Linked DNA regions of Homo sapiens: all the other regions are linked to region 2. Evidence: fine-mapped expression QTL. A gene starts in region 2. Each other region holds a variant in brackets. All regions are shown on one strand. Distances are from middle to middle.

Region 1 (8,187 bases), 42 kb after region 2:
TTTATTTGATTCTTCTCAAAAAGCAGTTAATAATCAGCTATAGTCCAAAACTTGCTTCTTTAGGGTAGTTCACAGAAAGGATTCTGATGGGTGCTTCAAATGTAAGTTTCTGACAACCTTGGAGATTTCATCAGTAGAGTAGAGAAACAAACTTCCAGAACTCTCATTGTAGAGCTACTGTGTTCATGAGGATTACTAATCCCAATATCAAATGAAATGAATTAATTTCATAGAACTGAACTAACAGAGGACTGAAATATATTTTATAACCCTTTTTGTTTGAAGCATTGTTGATTTTTTTTTTCAGTCAAGAAAACTTTTAGACATGAAATCAACCTAGGCGTCCATCAATAGTGGATTGGATAAAGAAAACGTGGTACATATACACCATGGAGTACTATGCAGCCATAAAAAATGAAATCATGTTCTTTGCGGCAACATGGATGCAGCCACTATCCTAAGTGAATTAATGCAGGAATAGGAAACTGAATACCACATGTTCTCATTTACAAGTGGGAGCTAAACATTTGGGAGCTCATGGACATAAAGATGGCAATGATATGCACTGGGGACTACTAGAGGTAGGAGGGAAGGAGGACGCATAGGTTGAAAACTACTGAGTATTATATTCACTACCTGGGTGATGGGAACATTTGTACCCAAAACCTCAGCACCATGCAATATACCCAGGTAGCAAACCTGTGCATATACCCCCTGAATCTAAAATAAAAATAGAAATTACTTTAAAAAGATAGCTTTTTTCTTTTGATCTATTTATAATTTTTAACAATTGAGTAAAGTATACTCTTATGACCAGAATCTGAAACACGTTTCTTTTTCTTTTTCTTCTTTTATTTTCTTTTTTGAGACGGAGTCTTGCTCTGTTACCCAGGCTGGAGTGCAGTGGTGCGATCTCAGCTCACTGCAAGCTCCACCTCCCGGGTTCACCATTTTCCTGCCTCAGCCTGCTGAGTAGCTGGGACTACAAGCACCCGCCACCACACCCAGCTAATTTTTTTGTATTTTTAGTAGAAACAGGGTTTCACCATGTTAGCCAGGATGGTCTCGATCTCCTGACCTTGTGATCCACCTGCCTCAACCTCCCAAAGTGCTGGGATTACAGGTGTGAGCCACAGCGCCCAGCCACGTTTCTTTTTCTTTTACCTGATTTCTCCAGAATTTGGAAACTTTTTTTTTTTTTTTTTTTTTTTGAGATGGACTCTGACTCTGTCACCCAGGCTGAAGTGCAGTGGCACGATCTCCGCTCACTGCAAGCTCTGCCTCCCGGGTTTACGCCATTTTCCTGCCTCAGCCTCCCAAGTAGCTGGGACTACAGGCCCCCGCCACCACGCCCGGCTAATTTTTTTGTATTTTTAGTAGAGACGGGGTTTCTCTGTGTTAGCCAGGATGGTCTCGATCTCCTGACCTCATGATCCGCCCTCCTCGGCCTCCCCAAAGTGCTGGGATTACAGGCATGAGCCACTGCGCCCAGCCGAATTTGGAAACTATTTTTGACAATCCTTAATTTATGGCAATATAATTATTTGCATAAGTTCAATAAGAATCTGTTTTCTCTTGTAACAGAACCCAATTGGAGACGTTGGATATTTTATCAAGTCTTTGACTGGAATGACATTTTTTCAGAAATAACCAGACTGCTTTGAGGAATTAAAATTGACTTTAAGGGCTGAGAAAAACCCCTTGGAAAAACTGGCATGGTACCCTCTGCATGCAATTCCTTTACAAAGCTCCTGACCTGTGGTGAGTAAAAAATTTCACCTTTGAATGGCCCGGAACCTCAAGTTACTTTGGAACATTGAGAAGAGAGGAATTCCCCCAATTCTTACAGGTGTCTGTTCATACAGCTATCTGCAGGCACAAATAAATCCTTGGCTGGGCCAGGGGCGGTGGCTCAAGCCTGTAATCCCAGCACTTTGGGAGGCCGAGGTGGGCAGATCACTTGAGGTCAGGAGTTCAAGACCAGCCTGGCCAACATGGTAAAACCTTGTCTCTACTGAAAAAACAAAAATTAGCCTGTGTGGTGGCAGGTGCCTGTAGTCCCAGCTACTTAGGAGGCTGAGGCAACAGAATCGCTTGAACCTGGGAGGCAGAGGTTGCAGTGAGCAGGGATGGCACCACTGCACTCCATCCTGGGCGACAGAGTGAAACTCCGTCAATAAATAAATAAATAAATAAATAAATAAATAACGTCTTAGGACTCCCGTCTCACTATGCCAAAGCGAAAAGTTAAGAGTGGGAACTGAGTCACGCATAAAACTGCCTTCTTTTTGTTCCCAAACAGAAAGAACCATGATTTCACATGCTTGCTTTATCTTACGGAAAATATAGATTTACTGAGCATGAAATGAATGCATAATTGACTTTTTCCTCTACGCCCTTCTTTGCATGTGTAAAATATAGATTCACTGAGTGCTAATCAATGCCTCACCACTTGCATCAATGCCTACCCTCCCTCCTTTTGTTTCTTCCACTCCTTCTTACTCTTTCCTGTTTAAATATTGAAGTTCACAAAACCTTCTTTGGAAAAAGCACAGGTGACAGGTACTACTTTAACTTGTGCTTCTTTTTCTTGAGTGCATCCTCAAAATCCATCTCTAATCAGTTGGGATCTGCCCTAGTAGTGGTTTACAATCCACAAATAGTCCTTTCCCAAAATTTTTTTCTGGGAAAATTTGGTTAGTGCTAGATCTTGCCAAAGGTCCTTGGGAGTTATTTCAGTAAGAGATAATAATTATTTGGTTATCTAATTGGCTTTCTTCTCATGATTTGTTAATCAGAGATGCCTCCATACTACAAAATAGAATGAGAGGTCATACTGAGAACAAGGAAGTAGAACAATAGAACAAAAGCTGACTGGTTAACTTCAGGTTCCTGCAGGTTACTTTGTTCATAAGCGTTAAAGCAGAGGGGACTTTTTTAGTATACTGACTCAGACTTGTATCCCCTGATTTCAGGAAAAACAAGTCTGATGTGGGATCTACCTGTTTCCTTAGAGTTCCAGTTTAATTATATGGTATTTAGCATGAGTGACTCCATTTTGGTTTAGTCTGGTCTCTTGTGGCCCAATTTGTAATAGCTCAGTCTAAAACAAGGGCCTCCCATAACTTTTGTTTAATCCTTCTTAGAACAACAGGGGATTTAAATACATTATGACCATTAATCTTAATAAGGTCAGCCAAAGTTGCTAGACACTTTTCAAGTTAGAAAGACTGAACATCTGCCCAGAAATAAAATGACCAACAAATGCAAATCTCCTACTTGAGGACCACTTTTTTTTAAGGTGTGTATGCCTCTATAAATAGATTATAAACAAACTTGTCTCTTTGTCTCCTAGTGAAGCAAAAGGAACCTGTGATGGGATTTCCTCATTGAGCAGAGGCTGTAATTGGATTTTATCTTGGGCAGAGAATATAGTTGAATTTCACCATGTATCCGTGATTTTTGCCCTGGAAAATGTAACTAAATGGGCCAGAACACCTCTTTCTCCATTATTTTTTTTTCTTTTTCTCTTTCTTTTTTTTTTTTTTTTTTTTTTTTTGAGACGGACTCTCGCTCTGTCGCCCAGGCTGGAGTGCAGCGGCACAATCTCGGCTCACTGCAAGCTCCGCCTCCCGGGTTCGCTCCATTCTCCTGCCTCAGCCTCCCAAGTAGCTGGGACTACAAGCGCCCACCACCACGCCCGGCTAATTTTTTGTATTTTTATTAGAGACCGGGTTTCACAGTGTTAGCCAGGATGGTCTCGATTTCCTGACCTCGTGAGCCGCTGCCTCAGACTCCCAAAGTGTTGGGATTACAGGCGTGAGCCACCACGCCCAGCACTCTTTCTCCACTTCTATATCAGTAGGGTGGCATAGCTTGAGGAGCCTCTGCTGTAGGTTAGGGGAACTTCTCTGTCATGATTTATCCACAGTTGCTGAGGACAAGATTTGGAGTGAGGCATGTTCAAATAACTAGGTGAGCCTATTCAGGCAGAGGGCTGAAAACTTTACATTTAACATTGGATTATTGTTCGTTGTTCATTTAATAAGCAGTAAAAAACATGAGAAAACTTTTGTTCCATCTCCTGATTTTTTTGAAATTTCCACTTCATTTTGTTAGGAAGACAGAGATACAGTGATGCCCAGGCTAGGTGGGCCTTCACACAATATGGTGCCTTAACCATATTGCTACACAGAGCTGTAGCTATTCCAGAGAAAATGCAGCAGAGACCACAGAGTGTCTGCCAGGCTTCCTCAATTTTACTGAAACACATGTACTACCTGCATGCGCTAATGAGAAATAAAAAGATTTCATAGTCATTTGGAGATTCAAAATGCTCACCATCAAGAGTGACTACTGTAAACGAAGGAGCCAAGGACAATTGCCAGGGAAAGAGTCAGATGAAAAAAATAAAGGAAGAAAGAAGAAAGGAAGGAAGAAAGGACAAAAGGAATGGAGGGAGGGAGGGAAAGAGGGAGAAAGGGAGAAATGAATGAAGGAGAAAGAAAAGGAAGTGAATGGTGTCAAACAGAAAACTTGCAAAAGAAAGTGGGTGGTTTGAAGTTTAGGATAAAGGGAATAAAAGATCCAGATAAATTTTTTAACAAGCAAATTAAAGTTATGAAATGCTAAGTGAAAGAAAACTGAAATCAGCCTAAGGAGCAGAACAATATTGCTCAGCAGGGGATGGTGGTTTTCAAGGTATCTGTCTTAGTCAATTCAGGCTGCTATAACAAAACATCATAGACTGGGTGGCTTAAACCACAAACATTTATTTTCCACAGTTCTGAAGGCTGGGAAGTCCAAGATTAAGGCGTCAACAGGTCTTGTGTCTGCTGAGGGCTGTCTCCCTGATTTGCAGATGTCTGCTTTCTTGCTGTGTCCTCACATGGGAAAAAGAGAGAGAATTTGCTGGTATTCCTTTTTATAAGGACACTAACCCCATTCATGAGGGTCCCACCCTCATGACCTC[G/A]CCTAAACCTATAACCTCCAAGGACTCCATTTCCAAATACCAGCAACCACATGTGTGAGCTTAGAAGAGGATCCTTCCCCAGGTGAGCCTTGAGATGACCCTGGCCTGTGACTTGATGGCAGCTTTTGAGAGACTGAGCCAGAGGCCTCCAGGTAAGCCCTTCTCAGATTCCTGAACCACAGAAACTGTGAGATAATCAATTTTATTGATATCTTGTGGATATTGATATCCCCAGTTTTATTGTGGAATAGATAACTGCCACACAGCTCCTGACAACTGGCATCTTGACACATGTTCTGTGCTCCAGGTCCCAGTAACTGTGCCCATCCATTGTTACCACAGGTCACAGTGGCCCTGGCCCTGGGGCATTATACTCTCTCTTGGTGTATTAGTCCATTCTTAGGCTGCTAATAAAGATATATCTGAGACTGGGTAATGTATAAAGAAAAAGAGGTTTAATGGACTCACTGTTACATATGGCTGGGGAGACCTCACAATCATGGAGGAAGGTGAAGGAGGATCAAAGGCACATCTTACATGGTGGCAAGACAGAGAGCATGTGCAGGGGAATTGCCCTTTATAAAACCATCAGATCTCATGAGACTTATTCACTATCATGAGAACAGCATGGGAAAAACCCGCCCGCATGATTCAATTACTTCCCACTGAATCCCTCCCATGACACATGGGGATTATGGGAGCTGCAATTCAAGATGAGATTTTGGGGGAAGGGCATAGCCAAACCATATCATTCTTCCCTGGGCCCCTCCCAAATGTCATGTCCTCACATTTCAAAATACAATCATGCCTTCCCAACAGTCCTCCAATGTCTTAACTCATTTCAACATTAACCCAAAAGTCCAAGTCCAAAGTCTCATCTGAGACAAGGCAAGTCCCTTTCGCCTATGAGTCTGTAAAATCAAAAGCAAGTTAGTTATTTTCTATATACAATGGGGGTACAGGCATTGAATAAATATTCCCATTCCAAATAAGAGAAATTGGCCAAAACAAAGGGGCTCCAGGCCCCATGCAAGTCTAAAATCCAGCAGGGCAGTCAAATCTTAAAGCTCCAAAATGATCTCTTTTGACTCCATGTCTCACATCCAGGTCACATTGATGCAAGAGGTGGGTTCCCATGGTCTTGGGTAGCTCCATCCTTGTGACTTTGCAGGGCACAGCTCCCCTCCCAGCTGCTTTCGCGGGCTGGCATTGAGTGGCTGTGGCTTTTCCAGGTTCATGGTGCAAACTGTCAGTGGATCGACCATTCTGGGGTCTGGAGGACAGTGGCCCTCTTCTCACAGCTCCACTAGGCAGTGCCCAATGGAGACTCTGTATAGGGGCTTCCACCCCACATTTCCCTTCCACACTGCCCTAGCAGAGGTTCTCCATGAAGGCTCTGCCCCTGCAGCACACCTCTGTCTGGACATCCAGGCATTTCCATACATCCTCTGAAATCTAGGCAGAGGTTTCCAAACTTCAATTCTTGACTGCTATGCACCTACAGGCTCAACACACCATGTGGAAGCTGCCAAAGCTTAGGGCTTGCACCCTCTGAATCCACGGCCTGGGCTGTACCTTGGCCCTTTTAGCCATGGCTGGAGCAGCTGGGATGCAGGGCACCAAGTCTAAAGGCTGCACACAGCAGGCGGGCCCTGGACCCAGCCCAGGAAACCATTTTCCCTCCCAGGCCTCTGGGCCTGTGATGGTAGGGGCTGTTGCAAAGGTCTCTGACTTGCCCTGGAAATATTTTCCCCATTGTCTTGGTGATTAGCATTTGGCTCCTTGTTACTTATGCAAATTTCTGCAGCTGGCTTGAATTTATCCTCAGAAAATGGGTTTTGCTTTTGTGCTGCATTGTCAGGCTGCAAATTTTTCAAACTTTTAAGCTCTGCTTCATCTTGAACACTTTGCCACTTTGAAATTTCTTCTACCAGATACTTTAAATCATCTCTCTCAAGTTCAAAGTTCCACAGATCTCTAGGGCAGGGGCAAAATGTCACCAGTCTCTTTGCATAGCAAGAGTGACCTTTACTCCAGTTCCCAACAAGTTCCTCATCTCCATCTGAGACCACCTCAGCCTGGACTTTATTGTGCATATCACTATCAACATTTTGGTCAAAGCCATTCAACAGTCTCTAGGAAGTTCCAAACTTTCCCACATTTTCCTTTCTTCTTCTGAGCCCTCCAAACTATTCCACCCTCTGCCTGTTACCTAGTTCCAAATTCACTTCCACATTTTGGGTATCTTTACAGCGGCACCACACTCTACTGGTACCAGTTTACTATATTAGTTCATTCTCACACTGCATTAAGACATACCTCGAGACTGGGTAATTTATAAAGAAAAAGAGGTTTAATGGAATCACAGTTCCACATGGCGGGGGAAGCCTCATAATCATGGAGGAAGGTGAAGGAGGAACAAAGGTATGTCTTACACGGCGGCAGGCAAGAGACCATGTGTAGGGGAACTGCCCTTTATAAAACCATCCAATCTAGTGAGACATTCACTATCATGAGAACGACATGGGAAAAACCTGCCCCCATGATTCAGATACCTCCCACTGGGTCCCTCCCATGACACACAGGGATTATGAGAGCTACAATGCAAGATAAGATTTGGGTGAGGACACAGCCGAACCATATCACTTGGGAATTCCCTGCATCCTACCCAGACCTTTGTAAGCTGGTCTCAGCCTGCCCAATTTGAATGTGCTGGTTCTTCCAGATCCCTGATGCATACCATTGTCTTGGCCAGGCCCATCACATAATGATTTTGAATCTTTTGACAGTATTCACCATATAATATGGCTACTTGAAGTAAATGTTTTCTAACCTGTCATTTAAAGTGATTTATGTATCATCTATATATCTACATTGTAAGTTAAAAAAAATCAACTGGATTAATAGGAAAGTAAATGTCAAAATAAGTGCAAAGGCAGGTTAGGTCCAAGGTTTTTTAAGTCCAGCAGTTCAGTAAGGCTAAGGCCCTCTTTCTTCTCTGCCAAACTCAATGTGTGGGCTTGATCTTCTAGATCACTCTCTAAAGGTGGCATGGTCCTTGCAGTTGATTTAGATATATTTTCATATCCTCCAGGCTAGGAAGCATTGATAGGCAAAAAATAAAATAATGTACCTTCTTAAGAATGAAGATACTGGGGGCCAGGTACAGTGGCTCACGTCTGTAATCCCAGCACTTTGGGAGGCCAAGGCAGGCG
Region 2 (8,187 bases):
AAATGCAAATCAAAACCACAGTGAGGTATCATCTCACTTCAGTTAGAATGGCCATTGTCAAAAATACAAAAAAAAAACCAAAAAACAAATGCTGGTGAGGAGGTGGAGAAAAGGGAATTCTTACACACTATTGGTGGGAATGTAAACTACTACAGCCACTGTAGAGAATAGTATAGAGTTTCCTCAAAAAAACAAAAATAGAACTAGCATATGATCTAGCAGCCCTACTACTGGGTAAAGAACCAAAGCAAAGAAAATCAGTACATCCAAGAGTTGTCCATACTCCATGTCCATTGCAGCACTATTCACAATAGCCAAGCTATGGAGTCAACCCAAGTCTCCATCAACAGATGAATGGCTAAAGAAAATATGATTTTATACACACACATACACACACCTACACACACACACACACACACACACACACACACAGTGGAATACTATTCAGCAATAAAAAGAATGAATTCTTGTCCTCCATGGAAACATGGATGAGCCTGGAGGAAATGGTGTTAAGTGAAATGAGCCAGGAACAGGAAGTTAAACATGTTCTCACTCATATATAGAAGCTAAAATAGTTGATCTCATAGAAGTAAAGAGTAGAATCCAGGTTATTCAAGGGTGGAAAGGGAAGGGGGATATAGGGAGAGATTTGTTAAAGGACAAAAAATTACAGTTAGGTGGAATAAGTTCTAATGTTTTATAGCACTGTAGGATGACTGTAGTCAAGAATATATATTTTCAAATAGCTAAAAGAGGACATTGAATTCTCCCAACACAAAAAATGATCAATATTTCAGATGGCAGATATGCTAATATCCCTGATCTGATTACTATACATTGTATGTATAGAAACACCAATACGTACCCCACAAATACATACAGTATTATGTATGAATTTTTAAAAATAAATAATTTTTATAGTCAATGAAAATAGTTTATTATTTTATTGTTTTTTGTTTATACATGTTAAGTTTCAACTTTCAATAATAAAATTCAATAAATTTGATTCCTTAATCATAAAAACTTGCTTTACACATTAGTTACATGTTGTCAAAGTCCATACAAAACATCACAAGGATTTGATTGACTCTATGCATGGTACCATCACACAGAAGGAGGAGGGAGCTAATCCAGTAACAAACATTCAAAGATTAAATTGTAGATATGCACAGTGTATTTGGCACTGTTGATTAATATTATAACACCTTCCTCTCAAAGACAGGCATTCTTAAGCGTTAGTCACAATATACCAGAATTTGCTATTCATATTAAAACCACCTTTTAAACTTTATAACAGTAACCAATTATTATAGTTTTAAGAAACAAAACGCAATGAGAACTGGGAATGGAATTCAAATCCTCCAACTTCTTGCTATGCTCCAAGCTGCCATCCATAAAACAGGTTTAATTTGGTAATTTTTCCATTGTGGGAAGTGTCAACAAGAAACAATTTAAAGACAATATTTTCCAATACAAATAAAGACATACACTTTTGTTTAAAATGAACAGTTCTTCTTGGGAGTGCAAAGGGAGCCTTGATGACGTACAGCTTGTGATGATTTTGGCAGCAATTACAGAACAACCAAGGCCATTCAAGTTGTGGAGATTATACTAGCAGGTGAACTCGTAAAGAGAAGATTCTGGAATGCCTATATCTGAAATCAGAATCCTAGTAGTTTGTAGTTTGCCTCTTCCTAGAAGTTCAAGAGACTCAAGTCATAGGCTACAGATGTACTTTCAAGTATATAATTATGAATGGAAGGAGAAAATAAAAGCACAAAAATGCAAATATTAAACCTTTAGTGACTTGGACTATATTCCAGTAGGTAATTTATTCCACTAACTTCACTTTAACAAAGATTAAATCCCTTTATTTTAATCAGGTCCATTAAATTTCATTCATTAAAGTTATACATACTCCAGAATGTTTATAAGACATTTACACCGATCATGTTTACAAAAAGCATAAATTCAGTCTTAAGCTGCACTACAAATGCCTTAATATAACATAATCACAGTATAAGGAAACAAATCAGAAATTCTCTGATTAGATATGCTGTAGCTTCACAGAAAACTCTCAGTAATAAATTAAAACAAAAAGACTTACAATGTATAATGGGCTATGCAGTGCAAAATGATGTCACCGGACCAAAATTTAGTTCAATCATTTTTATTTCAAGTGTGTTTTAAAAATCATAAACGGGGTTTCATAATCCAAAGCTGAAACATTTATTCTTCATAGCTTCAGAATTGACAAGCAATTGTAGACCATGCTTTCCAAATCCACTCTTCTTTGCTATTTTTCAAATTTCTGAGATCTAGTATTAAACTGCTCCATTCTAAATGTACAGTTTTAGATAACTATTGTACACTTGTTGATAAGAGTTTTCTGAAAACAGTCTATCAAATACAAAGAATGGTTTCTATCCAAGAATCAGCAGTGAGGGAAGAAATACTAAACACCTGTCAAGAAATCAGTTATTCATTTTAAAAAATAACAGAACCAGTGCTGCTCTCTGTCATAAAAAAGAACATGTAAAATTTATTTTTATAGGCTTTGGTAACATTATATTCCCCACAGAGGCCTTCAATCCTACTTAAAGATATTTTACACACGGTAACCATCAGGTTTACTGAGTAAAAATCTCAGGTATTAACCATGCCCCTAAAATGTGCTGTTCCAAAGAGGAACAGGTTACTTTTGAGGAAAAAAGCTGCCTTGGTAACTTCCCTCAAATGTTTATTTTAAATAAAAATAGTTGATGGAAGTATTTTTTAAACCAACTTTGGATATAATATGGCATACTGCCCATCAAACAAAAAAGGAAATCAAAACTTTTCTTCCATTTATAATGAGTTTTCCACCTTTACTTTTAAGATTACAACTTACTGACCTTTTATGCTTGTTTGGTTTTTTGACTGCCTAATCCAATATTTAAATTTTTAAAAGTCTGCATTTCAATGTAGTAAGAGTTCTTTTTCAAATAATCTTCATAAGCCAGAATACAGACACCAGAGCAACACTCTCAAGTCACACTGTTTGACTATAATGAAGAGATGAAAATGGGCGGATATCTGAAGATAGGTATTCCCTCTGCTCTGAAGGTGAGCAAGCTTTTAACATGTGAGCAACACAGAACTCCTTTCCTCTGGGGCTCCTTTCAACTCAGAATGCTTCAGTTCAGTAAGTCAATATGTTATTCCTAAAAATTAAAGTTTGGTCACTAAGAAGGACTGAACAAAATTTATTCCCCTCCCGCCAAACACAACCAGAACAGTTCTAATCAGGCCCCCTTCTCCCCACGAAAACAGGGAAGTAGCTGGGCTGAAGACTTTATTAAGTGTGACATTTCAGTTCCTAAAACATCACTGCTATATGCTCAAAGTTGTAGGTCTATGTATTTCCTTCTCCAACACGTCCCCATTTATGTTTATTTCCACACATACAAACGTGCACATGTGTGCACGCACACACGCACACACTCACTCTCAAGTAAGACACTTCTTTGTGTTTGTTGATAAATTATGAGGATTATGAACTAGGTGTGTACAGGGTTTCATAGGTGCTTTCTAAACATCAGAGTCACTTGGGTCCTTTCCTCCATAAGCCTCAGATCAAATTATGCAACCAATGACCACCACTTTCCCAGACGCTGTTCACAGGCTGCATAATGACGAAGGGCAGAGAAAAAGTCCCCATAACTGATGTTTACATGGGAAGGCAAAGAGACAATCTCAGTCAATCTGATGTGCCAGAGAAGAAAGCCTCGTGTGCTGTCCACAGGACCGAACTTCAGTACTAAATCAGGATCAGGACAACCATTTGAACTGAGTAAACTAACATATCTACATCCACATCTGTGGGTCTCCTTTGCTTCTGGGCTACTCACTGGCAAAAGTCCTGAGCGGCTCTCACAATATCTGCTTTTCCATCTTCCGGCAATAGCACCTTCACTGCCAAATGGCAATTTAAAACTTGATCATCTTTGTCATTACTATTTGCAAACTCTGGTGAGCATTTTGAACAATCTAGGCCCAGAAGTTCTTGCTGTTGTTTTAAAATTCCATCCATCAATCTGGAATTATTTCTTTTGAAAATACCTTGGTGGTCGTAGACGCTAATGTAGGAGATGCCCACGGCCATACACCACACCACGAGGCTCTCGATGTCCGAGAAGCTGGGTTCCTGCTCCACCTCGGTGATCACCAGGCCCATGTGCACAGGCAGCTTCTCCAGGGAAGGGCCGTCCGCGCGCCAGCGCACCTGGTGGTGGGCTGCGGGCAGGCACGACCCCCGGCGCGGGTGCGGGTGGTGATGGCGGTTCCTGCAGACGCCTGGGACTTGCGGAGCGTGAAGCCGAGCGGCGCTAGGACCGCGGCAGAGGCGGCGCGCCGGCACAGTCGCCAGATCCAGTTCCAAGTGCCGAACCGAACGCGGAGCCAGGAGGTGAGCTTGCGGTGCAGACAGAGCAGGGGGGCAGCACCCGCCACACCAGCTCTTACAGCCCCGTCATACTCTTGTGGCCCTCGGGTACCCCCTCTCCCTCCCGCCCACTCCCGTGGCGCTACGGCTTTTTATCCGCCCCTGCGCCGGCGCGGGCATCGCTCCGCGTCCCCCCGCCCCCTAAGCCCGAACCCCTTTCCACTGCCAACACCTCACCTCGCCCCCGCCGCCATCTTCCTCCTCCCTTGGCAGCCCCGCCCTAAAAATAAATAATTTTAAAAAGCATTCATTTTATACTATCTCTTGAACACTGTTCAGCAGGGTAGATTCCATTTTGATGATTATTTTCATCAGCACTTGGAATATACTGTTCCACTGTGTGTGGTCGTGATTGCTGCAGTTGTGAAGTTTGCTCTCAATCTAATCAGAGTCCCTTTACAGTTATGCCTTTTTAAAAGTGCTTTTAGTGTTTTTTTCTTTGATAATTTACAATTTAATTTTAATGTTTCTTTTTTTAACAGTGTTATTGAGGGATGATTGACATACACTAAACCGCGCATATTGAAAGTGCAAAATTTGATGTGTGTTTATGCTTGTGAAACCATCACTACAGTTAAGATAATAAACAGATCGGCCAGGCTCAGTGGCTCACGCCTGTAATCCCAGCACTTTGGGAGGTGAAGGCGGGTGGATCATGAGGTCAGGAGTTGGAGACCAGCCTGGCCAACATGGTGAAACCCCGCCTTTACTAAAAATACAAAAATTAGCCAGGCGTGGTGGCACACGCCTGTAATCCCAGCTACTCGGGAGGCTGAGGCAGGAGAATCGCTTGAACCCGGGAGGCAAAGGTTGCAGTGAGCCGAGATTGCGCCACTGCACTCTAGCCTACGTGACAGAGCAAGACTCCGTCTCGGGGAAAAAAAAAAAAAAAGATAATAAACATATTCATCACCCTAGTCTCTCCTTGTGCCCTTTGTAATCCTTCCCTCCACTTCTCCACCCTCAGCCTGTCCCCAGGCAACCACTGACATACTTTCAGTTATCATAGGTTAGTTTGCATTTTCTATAATTTTATATACCTGGAAGCATAGTGTATGTCCTCATACTTTTGTGAGCTCTGGCTTCTTTGCTTCAGCGAAGTTATTTTAAGATTCATCCATGTTTTTGGCAGTATCAACAACCCATTTCTTTCTATGGCTGAAGAGTCTTCAATTTTATCAGTAAACGCAATTTGTTAATGCATTCAGGAGTTGATGAACATTTGGATTGGTTCCAGCTTTTGGTTATTACAAATAAAGCTGTTATAAACATTTGCATACAAACCTTTATATAGACATATGCTTTTCTCTCTCTAGGAGTGGAATGGCTGGATCATATGGTAGGTGTATTTAGCTATTTAATAAACTGCCAAACTGTTTTCCAAAGTGGTTGTGCCATTTTTACCTTCCCATGAGCAGTGTAGGAGGTTTCTAATTTCTCTACATCCTTGCCATCACTTGGTATATCAGTCTGTTTAATTTTACACCTTCTAGCAGGTGTGTAGTGGTATCAACTTGTAGTTTCAATTTGCATCTCTTTATTGAATAATGATATTAAGCATCTTTTCCTGATCTTGTTTGCCATCAATATTTCTGTTGGTGAAGTGTCTGTTCAAATCTTTCGTTCCTCTTTTTATTGCATGTTTGCATTTTATTATTGAGGTTCAAGGGTTTTATATGTTCTGCATAGAAGTCCTTTACAGATACGTGATTTAAAAATACGTCCTCTTGATCTATGTCTTTTCATTCTCTTAACAGTGTATTTTGAAGAGTGGAAGTTTTTAATTTTGATGAAATGCATATTATCAATTTGTTCTCTTATGAATTATGCTTTTTATGTTGTATCCAAGGTCACAAAGATTTCTGCTCTATTTTCTTCTAAAAATGTTATAGTTTAAGGTCTATGAATTCCTTTGAATTAAAGTTTGTATATGCTGTGAGGTACGAATCAAAGTTCACTTTTTTGGGGATTCAGCATCATTTGTTGAAAAGACAATACTTTCTCCATTGAATTGTCTTTGTACTTTGTCAAGAATCTATTGGCCATATATATGTGAGTCTATTTCTGGAATCTCTATTGTGTTTCATTGATCTATTTGTCTATATGTATGGCAATACCATACTGTTTTAATATAGCTTTATATTTAGCCTTGAAATCAGATAAGTAAGTCCTCCAACTTTATTCTTCTTTTGCAAAGTTATTTTCACTATTCTAGGTCCTTCATTTTTTCCATATAAAACTTAAAGTTCAATTATTGATTTTCACTTTTAAAAGCCTTCTGGAATTTTGATTGATATTCAATTGATCTATAACTCAACTTGGGAGAATTGACATCTTAACAACTTCAAGTCTTCCTGTCCATGAACATGGTACATGTTCCATTTAGTTAGGTCTTCTTTAATTTCTCTCAGCAATGTTTTGCAGTTTTCAATGTACAAGTCTTCCACATGTTTTATTTGGTTTATGGCTAACAATTTTATATTTGTTAATGGTATTGGAAATAACATTTTTAAAATTTCAATTTCTGATTGTTTTATATAAAAATACCCTTGATTTGTGTATATTAATCTTGAACTCTGCCACCTTGCTAACTCACTTATTAGTTCTAATAGCTTTTATTTCATGGATTCCATGGACTGGTGTACACAAATGATAAGGAAAGTGTTACTCTTTCCAATCTAGATGATTTATTTCTTTTTCTTGCCTTATTTCATGAGTTAGAACCTCCAGTACAATGTTTAATAAAAGTGATGAGAGTAGATATCTTTACCTTGTTCTCAATTTTAGGAAGACATAGATTTTTGTGTAGATGGCCTGCATCCTATGAGGACTCTTCATTTTATCCCTGGTTTTGTGAGGGCTTTTAATCATGACTCAATGTTGGGTTTTACTAAGTGCTTTTTCTATTAAGATGATCATATGCATTTTTCTTTTTAGTCCACTAATATGGTAAAGTTCATTTATTGATTTTTGAATGTTAAATCAACTTTATCTTCCTGCAATAAAGTACACTTTGTCATGATATAGATGAACTAGATTTGCTAAAATTTTAGTAAGAATATTTTCATCATTGTTCATGAGGGTTATTGGTCTCTGTTGTTGTTTCTTATGATGTCTGTTTGATTTAGTAAGAAAGTAATGCTATCTTCATCAAATAAAGGAAAGACCTTTTCCTTTTCTATTGTCTGGAAGGATTTGCGTAGAATTGTTATTGTTTCCTTAAATATTGTTAGACTTCACCATGAAAACCACCTGGGCCTTTAGTTTTCTTTGTCATTAGGATTTTAATTAAAAACTTGATTTTGTCAATAGATACTCTTGTTATCTATTTCTTCTTGAGTGAACTTTGATAGTTTATGCCCTCCAAGGAATGTGTTCATTTCATCTAAGTTATCAAATTTATTAGAAAAAAATGGCTTACAGTAGTCCATTGTTTCCTTATAATTACTGTAGAAGATTTGGTGACACCCACCCTTTCATTCCTGGTATTGGTAATTCGTGCCTTTTTACTTTTTTCTTGATCAGCTGACTAGAAGTCTAACAATTTAATTGATTGTTTAAAATGATTAGCATTTACTTTCTTGGATTTTTCTTATAATTTTCCCTTTTTTCTTTCATTGATTTCTGTTTTTTTTATTATTTTCTTTATCTGCTTACATTGTGTTTAATTTGCTCTTCTCTTTCCAGTTTCTGAAGGTGAAAAC
Region 3 (8,187 bases), 75 kb after region 2:
AGCTAAAGGAAGCTGGGCAATCCAGCACCTACTAGTAAAAAGGGTCATGTGAGTTCATTTTAAAACACTTAAAGAAAAAAAGTTATTTCCAAGCCGGGCATGGTGGCTCACGCCTGTAATCCCAGCACTTTGAGAGGCCGAGGTGGGCGGGTCAGGAGTTGGAGACCAGCCTGAGCAGCATGGTAAAACCCTGTCTCTACTAAAATACAAAATTTATAAATATAAATATAAATAAAAATATATATATATTTATAAATATAAATATAAAATACAAAAATTAGCTGGGCGTGGTGGCGGGCGCCTATAATCCCAGCTCCTTGGGAGGCTGAGGCAGGATACTTGCTTGAGCCCGGCAGGTGGAGGTTGCAGTGAGCTGAGATTGAGCCATTTCACTCCAGCCTGGGCGACAAGAGTGAAACTCCGTTCCCTGTCCCCACCCGCCCCGCCAAAAAAAAAAAAAAAAAAAAGTTATTTCCCAGATGTACGACTTGTTGTTCAGAAACGTAGAAAGCATGAAGCTCCTCTGTTCCATTTCATCAAGTTTTCTAACGTCAATGGCACATGAAAGTAGAAAAAACAAGCTACTGAAAAAAGTAGTGCCTGATGTTACTTATAAATATGAAAAATTGCTGAATAAACAATGAAAAAGGCTGGGCGCGATGGCTCACGGCTGTAGTAATCCTAGTACTTTGGGAGGCCGAGGGTGGATCGCCTGATCTCAGGAGTTCGAGACCAGCCTGGCTAACATGGTGAAACCACGTCTCTACTAAAATGTAAAAAATTAGCTGGGCGTGGCGGCGTGCGCCTGTATTCCCAGCTACTCTGGAGGCTGAGGCAGGAGAATCACTTGAACTCGGGAGACGGAGGTTGCAGTGAGCCGAGATCGCGCCATTGCACTCCAGTCTGGGCAGCAGAGTGAGACTCTGTCGAGTCAAAAGAATCTGCTCTCTGAATGTAAAAGTAAGTGGACAATGGGAAAAGAGAGTTGAACAGTGAAGATAAAAGTAAAATGAAATGAAAAGAGGTAATGCTGGAAGTAAAAGTTGAAACAAAAGTAAATGGAGTTACAGAAGAAACAACTGACCATGGGGCTGACACTACTGACACTAGATACGCAGCCAGAGGAACTTAGTGAAGGTGAGCTTATCAGTACAAAGGAGGAGAGAGGTTATGATATAAAGGACAAAGATGTCCCAGAGTAAGTGACATTGGCGAAACATCGCTTCACATTACAGGGCTTTCAGAAATACTGCATGACCAAAGATGCAAAGGATTAAATGTGAGCATCTGATCCAGACTTAGAAAGGAGCGTGGAGCGTGACAATAAACCCAGGCATAGAAAAGATGAGCACTCCATAGCAAAAGTTATATGAGGAGGAGAGGAAGGCAAACACCATTCAAACTTTTCTTTGGAAGTTTTAAATAAAGCAATGAAACACTTCAATCATCAACATTTCCAATTCTTAAATTATAGTGTACTAAATAAACTTAGCTTTAGTAATGTGTGTTAGTAGCTGACAGCAACAGATTCTTTTCAATATATTCACAAAAGTTTTAAGGCCCTAGAATAATCATAATCTTCCCATTAGTTAATAAGATTGGTTTGCGGCCGGGCGTGGTGGCTCACGCCTGTAATCCCAGCACTTTGGGAGGCGGAGGCTGGTGGATCACGAGGTCAGGAGATCAAGACCATCCTGGCTAACACGATGAAACCCAGTCTCTACTAAAAATACAAAAAAATTAGCCGGGCCTGGTGGTGTGCGCCAGTAGTCCCAGATACTCGGGAGGTTGAGGCAAGAGAATGGCATGAACCCGGCAGGCGGAGCTTGCAGTGAGCCGAGATTGCCTCACTGCACTCCGGCCTGGGCGACAGAGCAAGACTCCCTCTCAAAAAAAAAAAAAAAAAAAAAAAAGATTGGTTTGCATGATTTCAGCATGGATTATTCTTACAGTCCTGCACTACTTACTGTGCAGAGTGAGAACAGACTTTCGGGATTTCACACCAACTGTCAAATGAGAAATAGTGCATCACTATGTAAATATCTTCTGAAGTCATTAAATCAAACTTATCATATATTCTTTTTTTGGGATTACAGGCTCCCGTCACCATGCCTGGCTAATTTTTGTATTTTTAGTAGAGACGGGGTTCACCATGTTGGCCAGGCTGGTCTTGAACTTCTGACCTCGTGATCTGCCCGCCTCGACATCCCAAAGTGCTGGGATTACAGGCATGAGCCACCGTGCCTGACCTAAATATTCTTTATAACATCTCAATTTTAAACCTGATAACATTCTTAAATAAGAAATACTAGCAGACACTTTTAAAGTTAGGAATAATTATTATTTAACCTGGACATGAATAAGGGAGAAATGATCATTTTAAACTTTACTGAGTACTGCCTGGGAAACAACTGTTAGAATCTAGTGAGAATCCACTTGAATCCATCGAAAACTTTAATATAATTTCTAAATAAGTACATAAAGACAATACTTTTTATATGTTAGTAATAACCAAGTAAAATATATTATTGGAGTAAAGGATTGTATTTGTTGTAGCAAAATTTCTGATCTAGGAAGCTAGGAAATTATTTGCAACTAAGATGACAGGCAAAATATTGAATTTGTTTAAATATATAAAAAAGTACTGCTAAGATAAAGAACAAAAATTATACAATTTAACCAAAATGTGAATAAAAATGGCAAATAACTATTTGAAAAAATATTTCATCTCGCCTATTTTATTTTATTTTATTTTTGGCTAAAATAGCAAAGATTTTTAATGATAGCTTACTTGTAGTGGCAATGGTGATATTAGATGGATTCAACTATATCTTGCTGAAAAAGATAAAAATGGCTACTTTCTTTAGGAATGTACTTTGGGTTATATGTAAATACCACTGAAACATCCACAGCTATGGTGCTGGGTCAGAAATGTTGAGGGAATTTAGTGAAAGACTTTATAGGTTTAATGCAGATCCTTTGATTGTTTAGGGAAGTCATATAACTACTCACAAATTTGGTGATTCACTGGAGAAATTACGCGACTCAACATATGAGGCTTGCATGGACCAGCATATGAGGGTTCCAGCTGCAAACAGAAAAGTCATGTCCAAGATGTCTCAACTTTGGGAAGCTCACTTGATCCTTGTGATCCATACTGGTCACATGGTTACATGACCAGCAATAGTGTCCCAAACCAGGCATCAGGATCACATCATGAACCTTCAGGTTTACCTTACATAATGCTGACAGTCTGATGCATCCTGACCACTGCCTTGGGCATGCAGAATAATATCATTAACCAGTTACCATGTGCACATGCCGGGACTTGGTTCTCAGCACTTAGCCAGGAGGCATTACAATGGCTACAGAAAGAAGCAAAAATGATAAAACAGACCTGCTGAGTTATTTTATTCCTTGCAGTTTACCTCTGACCCTTAGTCAGTTTCACCTTACAAAGAAATTATTTATAACACTATTAAATCTACATGTAGTGTACCATTTATTTATAG[G/C]GTAAAACAGGAATGGTAATGCAAATACATGCATCATTTGCAGAAGTTAGTGAGGAAGGGGGGCAGACTTAAAGAAATAATCTGTTAAATTCAATGTTCCACAACATATTTCTTTTTACTGTTATATAAACTTAATTATTGATTTTTACTTATCTATGGCTATCTTACTTTATGAGAAAACTCTGCAGAAACACCTATTATAGTGATTAATTGATTAATTAAATCTCATTCTTCCTCAGGCCAATTAGTGTCTCTATTGATATTACAACCCAAGGAAGTTTTAACTCAATTTCTCAGTATATTCACTCAACATTAGTACTATCATTTGATGCATTTATATAAGATAGCCAAATTTTACCAATAATCCCAATTTTACACCATATTGGAGTATTATTATGTTATTATTATTTTTTTTTTGAGACAGAGTCTTGCTGTGTCGCCCTGGCTGGAGTGCAGCGGCATGATCTCAGCTCACTGCTACCTCCGCCTCCTGGGTTCAAGCAATTCTTCTGCCTCAGCCTCCCGAGTAGCTGGGACTACAGGTGAGTGCCACCACGCCCAGCTAATTTTTATATTTTTAGTAGAGATGGGTTTCACCTTGTTGGCCAGGCTGGTTTCGAACTCCTGACGTTGTGATCCACCAGCCTCAGCCTCCCAAAGTGCTGAGATTACAGGTATGAGCCACAGTGCTATTATATATTTATTTATTTATCTGAGATGGAGTCTTGCTCTGTCGCCCAGGCTGGAGTGCAGTGGCGTGATCTCGGCTCACTGCAAGCTCCACCTCCTGGGTTTATGCCATTCTCCTGCCTCAGCCTCCCGAGTAGCTGGGACTACAGGCGCGTGCCACCACGCGCGGCTAATTTTTTGTATTTTTTTAGTAGAGACGTGGTTTCACCGTGTTAGCCAGGATAGTCTCGAACTCCTGACCTCGTGATCAGCCTGCCTCGGCCTCCCAAAGTGCTGGGATTACAGGCGTGAGCCACCGCGCCCAGCCCTATGCTATACTTTCGTATTGTTAGAAAATAATTGGGTGAGCATTATAGCATTATTAAAATCATGTTAGTAGATTTGGACTTTACCCATATACTAGATATTATTATGAGCTGGGATTGTTACCAGTGTCTTATGATTCTGTTACTTCTGGATTTCAGGCTAACTGGTACAAAGCTAATCTCTTAGCCTCTGTCAGTATGTTTGCACAGATACAAGGTTCCCATCTGGTGTTACATATGTAAAAAAGCTCTCCTTGATTCCACAAGGAGTATACATGTGTTGTTTATTATATTCTTTACACAATATGTCACGTCTTGGTTTATTCTTGGAATAAGAGCATTTAGGGAACATTGATATAAATTGCCTTTGCCTCAAGAAAATTTTCATAAGTTCAGGAGATCACGTATTTTTCAGAAGTGTACTTCTAGAGCTTCTGCTGCAACTAAAACGGTAGGTCACCGCCTATGACTCATTTGACCTCCATTTCAAGAAACATGATTTGAAGGCTCTGTTGGACTAGCTTGTGTGCTCTTTTCCGATAATGAGTTTTTTGTGTTTTGTCATTTTCTAATATGGTAGATTGGGTTTCTATGACCTGATTTACTAGGGCATCTGTCTTAGTCTGTTTTATGTTGCTATAACTGAAATCTGAGGCTGGGTAATTTATAAAGCGAACGAATTTATTTCTTACAGTTCTGGAGTCCCCAGAAGTTCAAGGTTGAGTGGCTGCATGTGGTGAGAGCTTTCCTGCTGCTGGGAACTCTCTGCAGAGTCCCAAGGCAGGCATCACATAGTGAAGTGGCTGAGTGTGCTAATCTGCTAGCTCAAGTTTCTCTTCCTCTTCTTATAAAGCCACCAGTCCCTCTCCCATGACAGTCCATTAATCCAGTAGCCTATTAACCTGTGCTTGTTTGTTTAGAGATGGGGTCTTACTCTGTCACCCAGCTTGGAGTGCAGTGGTGCAATCATAGCTTACTGCAGTCTTGAACTCCTGGGCTCAAGCAATATTCCTGTTTCAGCCACACCAGTAGCTGGGACTACAGGTACATACCACCAGACCTGGCTTATTTTTGTATGTTTTTGTAGAGGTGGGGTCTAGCTTTGTTGCCCAGGCTGGTCTCGAACTCCTAGCTTCAAGTGATCCTCCTGCCTTGCCTCCCAGAGTGCTGGAAGCCATCCACCATGTGTCATCACACCTGGCCTAACCTATTAATCTATGAATGAATGAATTCACTCATGAAGGTAGAGCCTTCATGACTCAATCATCTCCTAAAGGCCCCTTCTCTCAATATTGCCACATTGGGGATCAAGTTTCAATAGGAGTTTCTGAGGGGACAAGCATTCACATCATAGCAGCATCAATAGATTCTGTTCTTTACTGTTTGAACATAATTTCTTCCAACTTGTCTATTTTTGCTATTGATCTTTTTCTTTTGAATGTCCTTTATACTGAAGGAAAACTTTGCTTGTCTTACCATGCCTATACCCATACCTATTTCACAAAGAGCTCTCTTTCATCTTGTTGCCCAGTGTCTTTTAATCCACTACACATGCTGTTGTTGTTGAGTGCTAATTGCCTGGGAACAATAAAAATACATACTTTGTACCCCAAATTGTCGGGTCCTCTATACTAAGGTCAAATGTGTAGTGGTCATTCATACACATTTTAGTGTGCCACAAAGCTTCCCATAACCCCCCATTGTCTCGCTGCAGAGTTAACTTCAGTTGGGATGTGAGCCCAATGCTTTATCAGCATCTGAAGTAATTTTTTGTTTTAATCTTGTGTGACATCTGTCCATCCATAAAGACAAAGGTTTAAGTTCTTTTATACATTACACTAGGAGATAGCTGCCACTATTTGTTTTCCATTATACTCAGGAACCTAAGCATTTGGCCATCAGATTAATGACACAATGATTAGTCTGCCTGCCTGATATGACTGTACATCATAGCTGCCAGAAGGGAGAAACTCTCCGAGATCCCTCCTTAATTGCAATCTAATTGATATGTCCTGTAAAACAAGAACCAAAAGACTTAAGGGACATTAAGAGAGTCCTGCTTAGTCTGTCTACTGGGCAGCGCCGGGGCCTGCGGCTGCACAGGAGCCGGAGCCGGGAGCCGCGCTCCGCCAAGAGTTGGGCAGACGCCCCCCCTCCCCTGGTTGTCATGGGCCCCCTCTCGGGGCCTCAGCGGGCACCAGCCGCGGGAACCCCCGGGCCTCCTCGCGCCCGAGCCTGAGCGACCCTCGGGTTCTCCGGCGCCCCCTCCCTCGCCCTATTTTTTTCCTGCTCTCGCTACCGCTACCGCTTCTGCTCTCGGTTATGGCAAAAGAGCCACCATCACCCCTCCGGGTCGAGGCGCCAGCCCCCCGGAAATGCGGGCCCCACCGGCGATCGAGGCCATCCCTGAGGGCACCGGGCAGCCGGCGGGCGGCAGACTCCGCCTCCTCAACGGCTAAGTGCCCCTCTCGTATCAGGTGGCCGGACACATGAACGGGAAGGACAAAGTGGGTATACTGCAACACTCAGATGGCACAGCTTTGAAACAGTTACAACCACCTCCAAGGGGCCCAAGAGAGCATACGGTTTATGCTGCTGACTGTTCTGATGGTGTTCTTCTAGAGCTACGAAAATATTTGCCAAAATATGGCATCTGGTCACCTCCCACTGCACCAAACGATTTATACCTAAAACTGGAAGATGTGACACATAAATTTAATAAGCCCTGTATAATGAATATAAAGATAGGGCAAAAAAGCTATGATCCTTTTGCCTCATCTGAGAAGATTCAGCAAGTACCCATTAATGGAAGAGATTGGGTTTCTTGGTGCTTGGCATGAGGGTTTACCATGTTCATTCCGATAGCTATGATATACAAAACCAGCATTATGGAAGAAGCTTAACAAAAGGAACTACAAAGGATGGAGTCTCCGGATTTTTTCATAATGGGTACTGCTTAAGAAAAGATGCTGTTGCTGCCAGTATTCAGAAGATTGAGAAAATTCTGCAGTGGTTTGAAAACCAGAAGCAGCTTAACTTTTATGCAAGTTCATTACTATTGGTTTATGAAAGTTCATCTCAGCCAACCACTACAAAATTGAATGACAGAACTTTGGCAGAAAAGTTTTTGTCCAAAGGACAACTGTCAGACACAGAGGTACTAGAGTACAATAATAACTTTCATGTATTAAGTTCCACAGTGAATGGAAAAATAGAGGCTTAAGTGGGCAAAAACTTGTCCAAGATGTATGCTCGTCACAGGAAAATGTATACAAAAACCATCACAGTCAGACTTCAATGAAAGTTGAAAATCTGGAGCAAGACAATGAGTGGAAAAGCATGTCACAGAACATTTAAATGGAAATGTACTTTCCCAACTGGAAAAAGTTTTCTACCATCTTCCCACTGGTTGCCAAGAGATTGCTGAAGTAGGAGTGCGAATGATAGATTTTGCTCATGTGTTCCCTAGCAGCACAATAGATGAGGGATATATTTATGGGCTAAAGCATTTAATTTCTGTACTTCGAAGTATTTTAGACAATTGAATCCTCTGTTGCAGTCTTTTTAAGGGGTGGGCCAATCATAATGAAGAGGAGCAGTCAATATCTCTGCACCTTTAATGCTATGTAAAAAATTTGTATTGTGAGTCAACATTTTATTTGTCTTTATACTTTTGGAAG

Which allele goes with the higher level. Positions count from the first base shown, and alleles are read on the strand shown. Sizes are in standard deviations (SD) of each study's normalised expression.
For the expression in iPS cells of the gene that starts at base 3,796 in region 2, G is the high allele of the variant in region 1 and A is the other (moderate effect, 0.54 SD a copy in HipSci).
For the expression in cerebral cortex of the gene that starts at base 3,796 in region 2, C is the low allele of the variant in region 3 and G is the other (small effect, 0.29 SD a copy in GTEx).

Evidence for each region.
Region 1: its variant is fine-mapped to the expression of LINC00621 in iPS cells (HipSci, PIP 0.95).
Region 3: its variant is fine-mapped to the expression of LINC00621 in cerebral cortex (GTEx, PIP 0.95).

What each region holds. Positions count from the first base shown.
Region 1 is chr13:22,869,872-22,878,058 of GRCh38, reverse strand. LINC00621 (long intergenic non-protein coding RNA 621) reads left to right here. Exons shown (of 3, transcript NR_138043.1): 3 at 1,585-1,667. Among named protein-coding and RNA genes, the nearest start is that of LINC00621, 42 kb to the left of the region's middle. The variant G/A (reference allele first, on the strand shown) is at 4,973.
Region 2 is chr13:22,911,978-22,920,164 of GRCh38, reverse strand. It overlaps LINC00621 (long intergenic non-protein coding RNA 621), which reads left to right and starts at 3,796. Exons shown (of 3, transcript NR_138043.1): 1 at 3,796-4,447. It also overlaps the pseudogene NUS1P2. RefSeq lists an enhancer at 4,076-4,989.
Region 3 is chr13:22,836,885-22,845,071 of GRCh38, reverse strand. It overlaps the pseudogene IPMKP1. Among named protein-coding and RNA genes, the nearest start is that of LINC00621, 75 kb to the left of the region's middle. The variant G/C (reference allele first, on the strand shown) is at 3,513.